2 linked regions of the Homo sapiens genome follow. The protein of the gene in region 1 purifies or fractionates together with the protein of each later gene. This does not show direct contact. Each region holds a gene or a part of one and is shown in the gene's direction. Other genes may lie near its edges.

The links. The genes of interacting proteins can lie anywhere in the genome.
Region 2: the proteins of NFXL1 (region 1) and SNX21 purify together in Homo sapiens (co-immunoprecipitation; one large-scale study listed by IntAct). This does not show direct contact.

Annotation. Positions count from the first base shown.
Region 1 is NC_000004.12:47,886,608-47,891,564, reverse strand, and holds part of NFXL1 (NF-X1-type zinc finger protein NFXL1), read left to right. Parts: intron 1-861; coding exon 862-952; intron 953-4,957.
Region 2 is NC_000020.11:45,839,355-45,844,300, forward strand, and holds the end of SNX21 (sorting nexin-21), read left to right. Parts: intron 1-125; exon of another isoform or gene 126-951; coding exon of another isoform or gene 952-1,104; intron 1,105-1,284; coding exon 1,285-1,959; 3' UTR 1,960-2,483; coding exon of another isoform or gene 2,484-2,602; 3' UTR 2,603-2,678; coding exon of another isoform or gene 2,679-2,689; 3' UTR 2,690-3,922; downstream 3,923-4,946. Other genes in the region: ACOT8 (acyl-coenzyme A thioesterase 8), read right to left, coding at 2,484-2,602, 4,173-4,367, 4,909-4,946. UniProt on the Homo sapiens protein: Binds to membranes enriched in phosphatidylinositol 3-phosphate (PtdIns(P3)) and phosphatidylinositol 4,5-bisphosphate. May be involved in several stages of intracellular trafficking.

The DNA of each region.
Region 1 (4,957 bases):
AATTAGGACAGGTCATAGATAGCTATATTTCTCACAGACACGGAAGTGTCTGTGAAACCAGGGAAGTGACAAAGAAAGCTGGATGCAAGTAGCCTATCTCTGCTTCTCTTCTTTAATCTCTTAATCTATGGTTTGAAAATAACTGCCAAACGAAGCCAGGAGCAGTGGCTTATGTCTATAATCCAAGTACTTTGGGAGGCCAAGGCAGGCAGATCGCTTGAGCTCAGGAGTTTGAGAGCAGCCTGGGCAACATGGCAAAACTCCATCTCTACCAAAAATACACAAACTACTGAGGTGTGGTGGGGAGAGCATGTAGAACTAGGTACTCAGAAGGCTGAGGTGTGAGGATGGCTTGAGCCTGGGAGGTGGAGGTTGCAGTCAGTCAAGACTGTGCCATTACACTCTAACCTGAGACAGAGCCAGACTCTGTCTCAAGAAAAAAAAAAAAAAGAAAAAAAGAAAAAGAAAATAAATAACTGCCAAATGAATCTATACGTTGAATTTGATTTTAATTAAATTTTTTTTAAAAACCAGACTAATTGTTTTCCTGAATTGACATTCCTTTGGTTAATGTTGTTAGTCTCTGCATAGATAAAGGAATGAAATTATCTGATGGAAATGTTTTGAATCATAGAATAATTAACTGAAAGTCAGGAAAATTTAGCTTGATTTGTTAAATTAGGTCATCATAAGTTCTTAGTGAAGTATGTTTACTTACCAGAAGAATGTTGATATTCTTGAATACTTCTTTTAGTGAAAAGTGTATCTTTTGCTTTCCATAAGTTCTGTAACTAGTAATGACATGCCTATTATTCATGGGTTTTTGAATTACCTGTTCTTTATATATTGCTTTCTCTTCAGTGTTGCCCTGGAAACTGTCCACCTTGTGATCAAAACTGTGGACGGACTTTAGGATGTAGAAACCATAAGTGTCCATCTGTCTGTCACAGAGGTAAACTTTAATAATAGCTATGATTTTATGTTTGTAGTGATGTAGTGGTTTTTTTTTTCATTGTCAATATTCAATATAATGTATTGAAATAGCGTTTTATAGTCATTATCTCACTTGACTCTCTTAACCTGGAGAAGAAGGTAAGGCAGTTTGCCAGTGTCTCTATTTTATAGGCAAAGAGGTTGAAGCTTAAGAGGGTTCAGTAACTTACTCAGGGAAATGTCTAGTACATTTGAACCCAGGATTTCTGTATATAAAAGTATTGTCCTTTCTATAACACCATATTGTTTTCCCACTTCCTGACTTTCCCCACATAATTTTTTAATCAATGAAGGTGTTCATAGCATTTTGAACACCTTATTTATTCTGAATTTTATATACTTATTTGTAGTTAAATCTAGTAAAGGATTAGATATGTCCGAAGCTGGTGATTTTTAAACATTTTGATGTCATGACCCCTTTACAATCCTTTGGTCCCCAAAGGGCTTTTGTTAATGTGAGTTTTATTCATTGACATTTATTGTATTTGAAATTAAAATAAAATGTAATAATATTTATTATTTTTTAAAAATAGCAGTAATAAACCCATTATATCTTAATACAAATAATGTTTTATGAAAAATAACTATTTTCTGAAAAAAGTAGAAAATTTTACATTTTTACAAATGTCTTTAATGTCTAGCTTAACAGAAAATAGCCGGATTCACATATATGCTTCTGTATTCAGTCTGCTATGGACATCACTTTTCACTAGCTTCTGGAAAACTATGCATGTGAGACCTTGCAGACCTCCTGAAAGGGTCTCAAGAACCACTAGGGTTCCTGGACTATACTTTGAGAATTATGTTATAAGTTATTACTAGACATTAAAAACTGAGTTAACTTCACTCATTTGGATTATGTTGATATGAAATGGAATCTACTGAGATATGGTATACAGTATTGGAAAGATCGTGGACTTAGAGTAAGAAATCCTGGATTTAAGCCTAGACTCTGCCATTTAGTAGTTTAATACCTAGAACAAACTACTGAACTGTTTCTCAGTTGATCTCCCTATCCTTTCAGAAATCCTGCAGCATATAGGGATATGTGGAACAGGCCGGGAGACTATTGGCCCAAGGTTAATAGAACTAGTCGCAGAGTCAGGATGTGAACCCAGTGTTTATGTTATTTCCATTATACTACATTCCTTCCCCATTAGGAAAAGTGTCAGATTCTATTTACCCTGTAGACATTTCCTGTAGGTGTTCTTTGATTTGTCAGTGAAGTTTAGAAATAGTTTTTCAGGTATGCTCTCACCAACACTAGAAAGATTTTATTTTCTTTTATAGTCATTACATCACTGACCCATTGAGTTTTTGCAGATTTTTGCAAACTACATCTCTGTGATATAACTGGTTTAACAGTAGTAAATCTAATATTATGTAATTTACCACATTAAAAGACCAAAGGAGGAATGAGATCATCTTGATAAATGTCTAACATCTATATAAGATAAAAATTTAATTGGAAATAGACATATCCTTAACCTGATAAAGAGTATCTGCAAAAAGTTTAGAGCAAATATCATACTTACTGGAGAAGTGTTGGAAGCATTTCCCTGTCTCATATTTTTGTGAAGCAAAGCCCATAAATATTTCAGTATTTGTCTCTAAAAGATGGATTCTTAACCTAAATGTAGTTAACATATTTCTTCATATCAGCAAACATCTGGTTTTCAAATTTCTTGTTGTCTCATAAGTAACTTCATTTTTTACATCAGTTTATAGACTCAAAAACCTAATAAAATTGACATGTTGTAATTGGTTTTGTCTCTAAAGTCTTTTAATTTATAATTTCCATCCTCTATCTCCTTTTTTCCCCTTATGACTTATTTGTTGAAGAAACTAGGTTGCTTTATTTAGTTTCTCAGAGTCTGAGTTTTGCAGATTGCATCTCTGTGGTATTATTTAACATGTTCCTCTGTCCTCTATATTTTTGATAACCTGTTAATTGGATCTAGAGGTTTGATCAGATTCAGGTTTTGATATTTTTTGGTAGAGTGGTGTTTTTTTGTTTGTTTTGTTTTTATAGATTTCTATTAATCCTTAGAAAAGCTTATTAGTCACAACAAAATTTTCCTTGATGTAAAGTATGTGGAAGATGCTGTTGTGCAACTGTCAATATTTGTTTCATCTACAGTTATAAAAGAATGTGGAATCATAATTTCATACCATTTTTCCATCATTCTAGAATCCTTCATAATCAGAATTATACAGTAATTTATAGGGGGAATATACTAACTGCATGTTTGTGTTGTGGGTATGTGAAAATTTGATTTATAGTTTTGTTTTGTTCTTTGAGACGGAGTCTCTCTCTGTCACCAGGCTGGAGTGCAGTGGCGCAATCCCGGCTCACTGCAACCTCTGACTCCCCATTTCAGGTGATTCTCCTGCCTCAGCCTCCCGAGCAGCTGGCATCACAGGCATATGCCACCATGTCCAGCTAATTTTTGTATTTTTAGTAGAGCCGGGGTTTCACCATGTTGGCTAGGATGGTCTCGATCTCCTGACCTCGTGATCTGCCTGCTTCGGCCTCCCAAAGTGCTGGGATTACAGGCATGAGCCACAGCGCCCAGCCGATTTATAGTTTTTTTTTTTAAATTCAGGATCATCTGTGTTTATAGTTTTAGAACTACCCGAATCATGCCTATTTTGGCTATTAACTGGTATTGGTCAGTATAGTTATAGTCTCCCTATGCTATTTCTTCATTTTGAAAGTATTATGGAAGCTCTTTTAATTATAATAAATTCTGTTGGTCAGTAGGGAGACTGTTTAGAGAAATTGTCCCTTATTTTCAAGATGTAATTTAAATGTGATACTGTTGTTTAGAATAACAAAAAGGTTACGTTTGATAACAAAAAGGTTCCTCTGCTGAAGATGAATGAAAAATTGTCATTGTTAAGTATAGAAACAGATATAATATGCCGAATGAGAACCGACTTAAATATCACTATCAACTTTAAAAATACAACTTGTAGTCATTCTTTAGGTAAAATAAAAATAAAACTTGATATGTGGGTTAGGATAACTTGACTTGCATTAACATCAAGAATATATGTGTCAAAACACATTTGGTGTTTTGTATAATAAATGTTATGTTTGACCCTACGATGTTTTACCTCTAATCTTCTCTTTTTCTGTGTTCATTATTTGAATTATAATTCTTAATTTGTGTTTGTTTTAGGGAACTATTTTGAACTTCTAGAGGCACTTAAGCCAGGATATTGTCCATCTTTAATCTTTTTTTTATCAGGTTAACTCCCGGTCCATGTTTTGCTTGGTCCTGACACCTAGGCAACAGTCTCTTTAAGATATTCATTTCTTCATTGAAAACTCTTCTTCCTTTATTATTTCATTTCTGATAGAGTTCCTTACTGGGAAAACTAGAGTGGAAGAAAGCCCTTAAGATGATGACAGAACCTCTTGGAGCGAACTTTATAGCCTGCTTTAAAGATTTCTTTGATTTTGTTTTTTTATATTTTTGCCAACCCATAACAAAAGAGCGTAAAAAGCTGAAACCAAAATAACATTTTTTTTTATGTTTAGAAGAGAAATATTTGGGATTATATCCTAAAATGGTGGCTTAGTACTTAGTCTTTCACAAAGCACAATTAATGGAAAATTGACTGTGCTTGCTACTAACCAATATCAGGTCATGAGAAAGAAGTTATTGGGAATTCATCTAAAAATTGTGTACTTGGATAGATGTATGAAAGTAGGCCAACGATATTATTGTTAATGTTAAATTTTCCAAAGACTTAAATCCATTTTTGCTTGTTTTAGTTTTGAATGAGTAATGTGTTAAATTTGTTATTTAGAACAGAAGTTTTAGCACATTTTAGAGAAATGTCTAAAACTTTATGAGGTACCAGTGTACAGAGAAAAAAGTGTTATAAATCAGAGGCTGGGTGCAGTGGCTCACGCCTGTACACCCAGCATTTGGGAAGCTGAGGTGGGAAGATT
Region 2 (4,946 bases), on another chromosome or scaffold:
AAATACAAAAAATTAGCCGGGCGTAGTGGCAGGCGCCTGTAGTCCCAGCTACTCGGGAGGCTGAGGCAGGAGAATGGAGTGAACCCAGGAGGCGGAGCTTGCAGTGAGCCGAGATCGTGCCACTGTACTCCAGCACTCCAGCCTGGGCAACAGAGCGAGACTCCGTCTCAAAAAAAATAAAAAAATAAAAAAACCCCAACAAAACCAAACTGAGAGCTTCTCAATTTGTAGTCAGAAAGATTAAAAAACAATTAGGCTGGGTGTGGTGCTCATGCCTGTAATCTTAGCACTTTGGGAAGCCTAGCTAGGAAGATTGTTCAAGGCCAGGAGTTCAAGGCCAGCCCTAGCAACATAGTGAGACCCCCCCTCATCTCCATACAAAAAAAAAAAAAAAAATTTTTTTAAATAGCTGAGTGTGGTGGTGCATGCCTATAGTCCTAGCTACTTGGGAGGCTGAGGCAGGAGGAATGCTTCAGCCCAGGAGGTTGAAGCTGCAGTAAGCTATGATTGTACCAGTGTACTCCAACCTGGCCAACAGTGAGACCCTGTCTCAAAAAATAATAATTAAAAGGGGACCAACCTCCTGATACAGTGATATTTACTCTAGTGCACACCACCTAAAAACCTCAGGTACCAATACTTGTACATGTCTCATTTTTGGACAAACACTGACTTGACCGAGCACTTCCTTCACTAGAAACAGAAGTGGACCCAGAGGGGGACTCCCTTGCCTGGGTCACACAGAGAAGGAGTAGCTGACCTGGGGTTAGAACTTGAGTCCTAGGCCAGTATACTTTTCACAGTTATGGCAGTTGTGGCTATCTACAGACCTGTCCTCTGGGTCTAGTTTGGAAAAGCCTGACCAGGGATGTGGAGGCCAGGTGTCCAAAGTGGAACAAGCTCCAAGCTGGTCCTAAAGGAGCCCCAAGAGATTGGCTGGGGTTTCAGCTTATGTCTGGTTTTCCAGAGGGGGCTGTCAGAAGAACTAATGCTCTATGGGAAGGGAGTACAAAAAAAGGGGCAGCAGCCCCGGGCACTGAAGCTCATCTCTGTCTTTCTCTCTTCTTGCTGCCTTGGGCCTGGGTCATTTCAGACAAACCTCAGGTAAGATGGGACTGGGCTTCCCCGCCACTGCGCAGCAGCTCCCGCCCTCCTGGGTGCTGTCCCAGGGGTGAAAGGAAGAGGTGGGGAGGTACAGCTGGGAGTGTGGGGGATGGGGAAGGATGGGGAGGGAACGGGCCCGTGGACAACTTGCATTTGCCCTGACACCCACCCTCCCTGCAGCTCTACACCCTCGCCGTGATCGGCCCAGGACCGCCAGATTGCCAGCCAGCCCAGATCTCTCGCCGTTACTCGGACTTTGAGCGGCTGCACCGAAACCTGCAGCGGCAATTCCGGGGCCCAATGGCTGCCATCTCCTTCCCCCGTAAGCGGCTGCGCCGGAATTTTACTGCAGAGACCATTGCCCGCCGTAGCCGGGCCTTTGAGCAGTTTTTGGGTCACCTGCAGGCAGTGCCTGAGCTGCGCCATGCCCCGGACCTGCAGGACTTCTTCGTGCTGCCGGAGCTGCGGCGGGCACAGAGCCTCACCTGTACTGGCCTCTATCGTGAGGCTCTGGCACTCTGGGCCAATGCCTGGCAGCTGCAAGCCCAGCTGGGCACCCCCTCTGGCCCAGACCGCCCCCTGCTGACCCTGGCTGGGCTGGCCGTGTGCCACCAGGAGCTGGAAGACCCTGGAGAGGCCCGGGCATGCTGTGAGAAGGCCCTGCAGCTGCTTGGGGACAAGAGCCTCCACCCTTTGCTGGCACCCTTTCTGGAGGCCCATGTCCGGCTCTCCTGGCGCCTGGGCCTGGACAAACGTCAATCAGAGGCTCGGCTCCAAGCCCTGCAGGAGGCAGGCCTTACCCCCACACCACCCCCCAGTCTCAAAGAATTGCTCATCAAGGAGGTGCTGGACTAACCCTTGCCTAGATTTAAGGCCACTGTGAGGAGAGGGGTTGCCCCAGAAGGCAGGGGAAGGACCTGATGAGAACAGAATAGCTGGGAGGCTGCAGAGGGTGCTGGGAGCCCCTAGAAGTTCCAAAAGAGAATGTGAAGCAGATCAAGGAAACTTCTGTTGAGCTAGGCTCAGGGTGAGCTTTGGCTGGGGTTGCCCTTGTGTAGTACAGGGAAGTCTGACACAGCCTCTCCAGCCTATAAACAGCCGGGGGGCTGTGGCACAGGTTGGGGCAATGTTCCCTTGTTGGTGGGCCCCCAAGCTGGCAAGGCCTCTTGGCTGAAGGCCAGGGACTCTGCCCCTGGAGTCCTGGAGTTAAGGGATGAAGGCAAGGCTGCAGGTCTGGCCCAGGGGAATTAAAAGCCAGCCACTCCAGTGGTATCAGTCTCTTTATTGGATGTGAGGGCCAAAAGGGACTGTAACTCCTGTCTCAGGAATGGGGATAGATGGGAGGTTCTTGAAGCCCCAGGCGAAGCTGGTACCTCTGGCTACAGCTTGCTCTCTGAGACCTGGGGCTTCACTCGGATCACGCCCTCCTGGGCACAGGTCACAGCTAGGACTCCATCCTGACGCCACAGCCGCCCATGGACCAGCCCCCGAGAGCCACCTGTGGGTGAGGTGAAGGGTGATGATGGCCTGCTTCAGAACAGCCAAATACACTTTTTTTTTTTTTCCTGAAACAGAGTCTCACTAAGTTGCCAGGCTGGTCTCAAGCGCCTGGGTTCAAGGGATCCTCCCGCCTCAGCCTCCTGAGCAGCTGGGATTACAGGCGCACATCACCATGCCCAACCTCCAAGTGGACTTCTTGCAAAGGGTCTGGCCCAGGGCAGGGCTGCCCCACACAAGGGTGCACTGAGTGTCGTGGCTGCTCCAAATGCCCCTTCATGAGCTTATTATGGACCGTCATTGAGGGGTAACTCCTCCCACAGGAACCCCAGTTGACAGTTTAAAAGCACTTTCACACCTCTCCTCGCTTCCTCAAAAAGATCACAGAGGGAGGAGCTCTGAGAACAGTCTCCTTCAACAGCTCGGCCAAGCAGAACTGCTGTACCTCTGACCACTTGTGTTAGGAAAACTATCGGCTCCCTGTATAATAAATCAAGCCAGGTCCTCCAAGTGGTAATTCATGAAAAATATCCCCACTACCACCACCAAGGGGAAGAAAGGACTCAGAAGAGAGGACTTGAGGCCATGAGGTCTGGCCTCTTCCCTCCCCATCTGGAGACTCTTTCTCCCTTGCTGGCTTTGGGCCCAAGTTTGATGTTTATGAGGATGATTGCTGGTTTCCCTTACACATAGCAGAGCTCACTCAGTTCTCACAGTAGCCAAATGAAGCAGTTATGTGTTGTCCAGTTTTCCAGACCAGGACTGAAATCCAGAGAGGGTCAGGAATTTGGCCCCATGATGAAGCCAAATCTGAACCCATGTCCTCACTTCAAGGTTATCAATCTTGGATTGTGATGCTATTGGTACTTGAGAATACCCCTTATCTGAGTATAAAGAATCCTTGAGTTTTGTCCTTGGTTTATCAAGCAAAGCTTTTCTTCATTTGAAATGTACTCCCTTGGAAAGGAGGTCAGGGTTCTGAAGCTAGACATTGATGAACGAGTCTTGTTTCTCTCCCCTGCAAGGAAGGTCCAAGCAGGCCCTTAGGGACCACTGAATGCCCCGATCCCAATCAGGTTAATCAGAATCACTTAGAGAACTTAAAAATACAGTTTCCTGGACCTTATCCAAGACCTACTGAGTGAGAATCTTGAGGGTGGAATCAGAATCTATTTTGAAAAGGCATCCCCAAATGGCAGTCTGATGGACTGCGGGTTTGGATACCACTGCTGTAATGTAACCCTCTTTGTTTAGATGAGGAAACTGAGGTTCAGATGGAAGATATGATTTGCCTATTGTAATACAAAGAATCTGAACTGGTTTTGGGACTAGAACTGGGTCCCTGGGAGAAGGTGAATCACATTTCCAGCACATTCTAGAAATTTAGAGCAGAGCAGGTGTCCCGGCCTCACCCTCTCATTTTGAAGATGAAGATGCCAAAGCCTGGGAGGGAAGGAAAGGAAGTGACCTGTGCAGCGCCACACAGGAAGTCGGGAAATCAGCATCACCCAAGAAAGCAGGCTCCTGCCACTCAAGGTCAGTGCCCTTGTCCCACACGGCCCCACACTCACCGGCCCAGGGGCTCTCGCATTCATAGAGCATCCAGTGGTCAGCTCGGAAGGGGGCGTGGAACCACATGGAATGGTCCAGTGAGACCATGAAGTGCACCTTGTGCTGCCACTGGTGAGGCAGCAGTGCAGTGCCCAAGAAGGCATAGTCGGAGATATAGGCGGCCACGCAGCAGTGCATCTTCATGTCGCCCTCGCCTGCAACAGGTCCCCATCAGCCCTGGGCTCCTGGGCTTTCCAGCTCAGGACCTGCACGGAGGTAGGGGGAAAAGGGACTCCCGTGCATGGGTGTGCAGACTGGTTGCTGCACAAGAGCGCTTGGCCTACAGTGTGTGTGTGTGATAGGGGAGAAGTGAGATGGCGACTTGGGGAGGGCAGGGGTGAGCAGGGACTGAAATTCAGTCTTCACCACCCAAGTCTCCCACTCTAGGCCCCAAAAGGGGTGTCTTCTTCCAATTTGCACAAAGATACTTTATAGTTAGCAGCAAAGCTGGACAACAACCCCAGCGAGGTGCCTTTTGCCTTCCTCAGAAAGGCCTTGTGTCGGGATTATAGTCATCTCCACCTTCTCCCCATGCAAAGGGCTGAGAGGGCCCAGGTGAGAAGCTAAGCCAACTTCCCCATCATGCAGATAAGGAAACAGGCCCAGAGAAGGGAACTCATGTGCCCAAGGCCACACAGCAAATGAGTGGTAGACCCCTTGGAGAGTGGTTTCCTCCCATCCATGGGGTACTCTTACCAATATAGCCCCGGGCTCGCACCCAGAACATCTGTTTG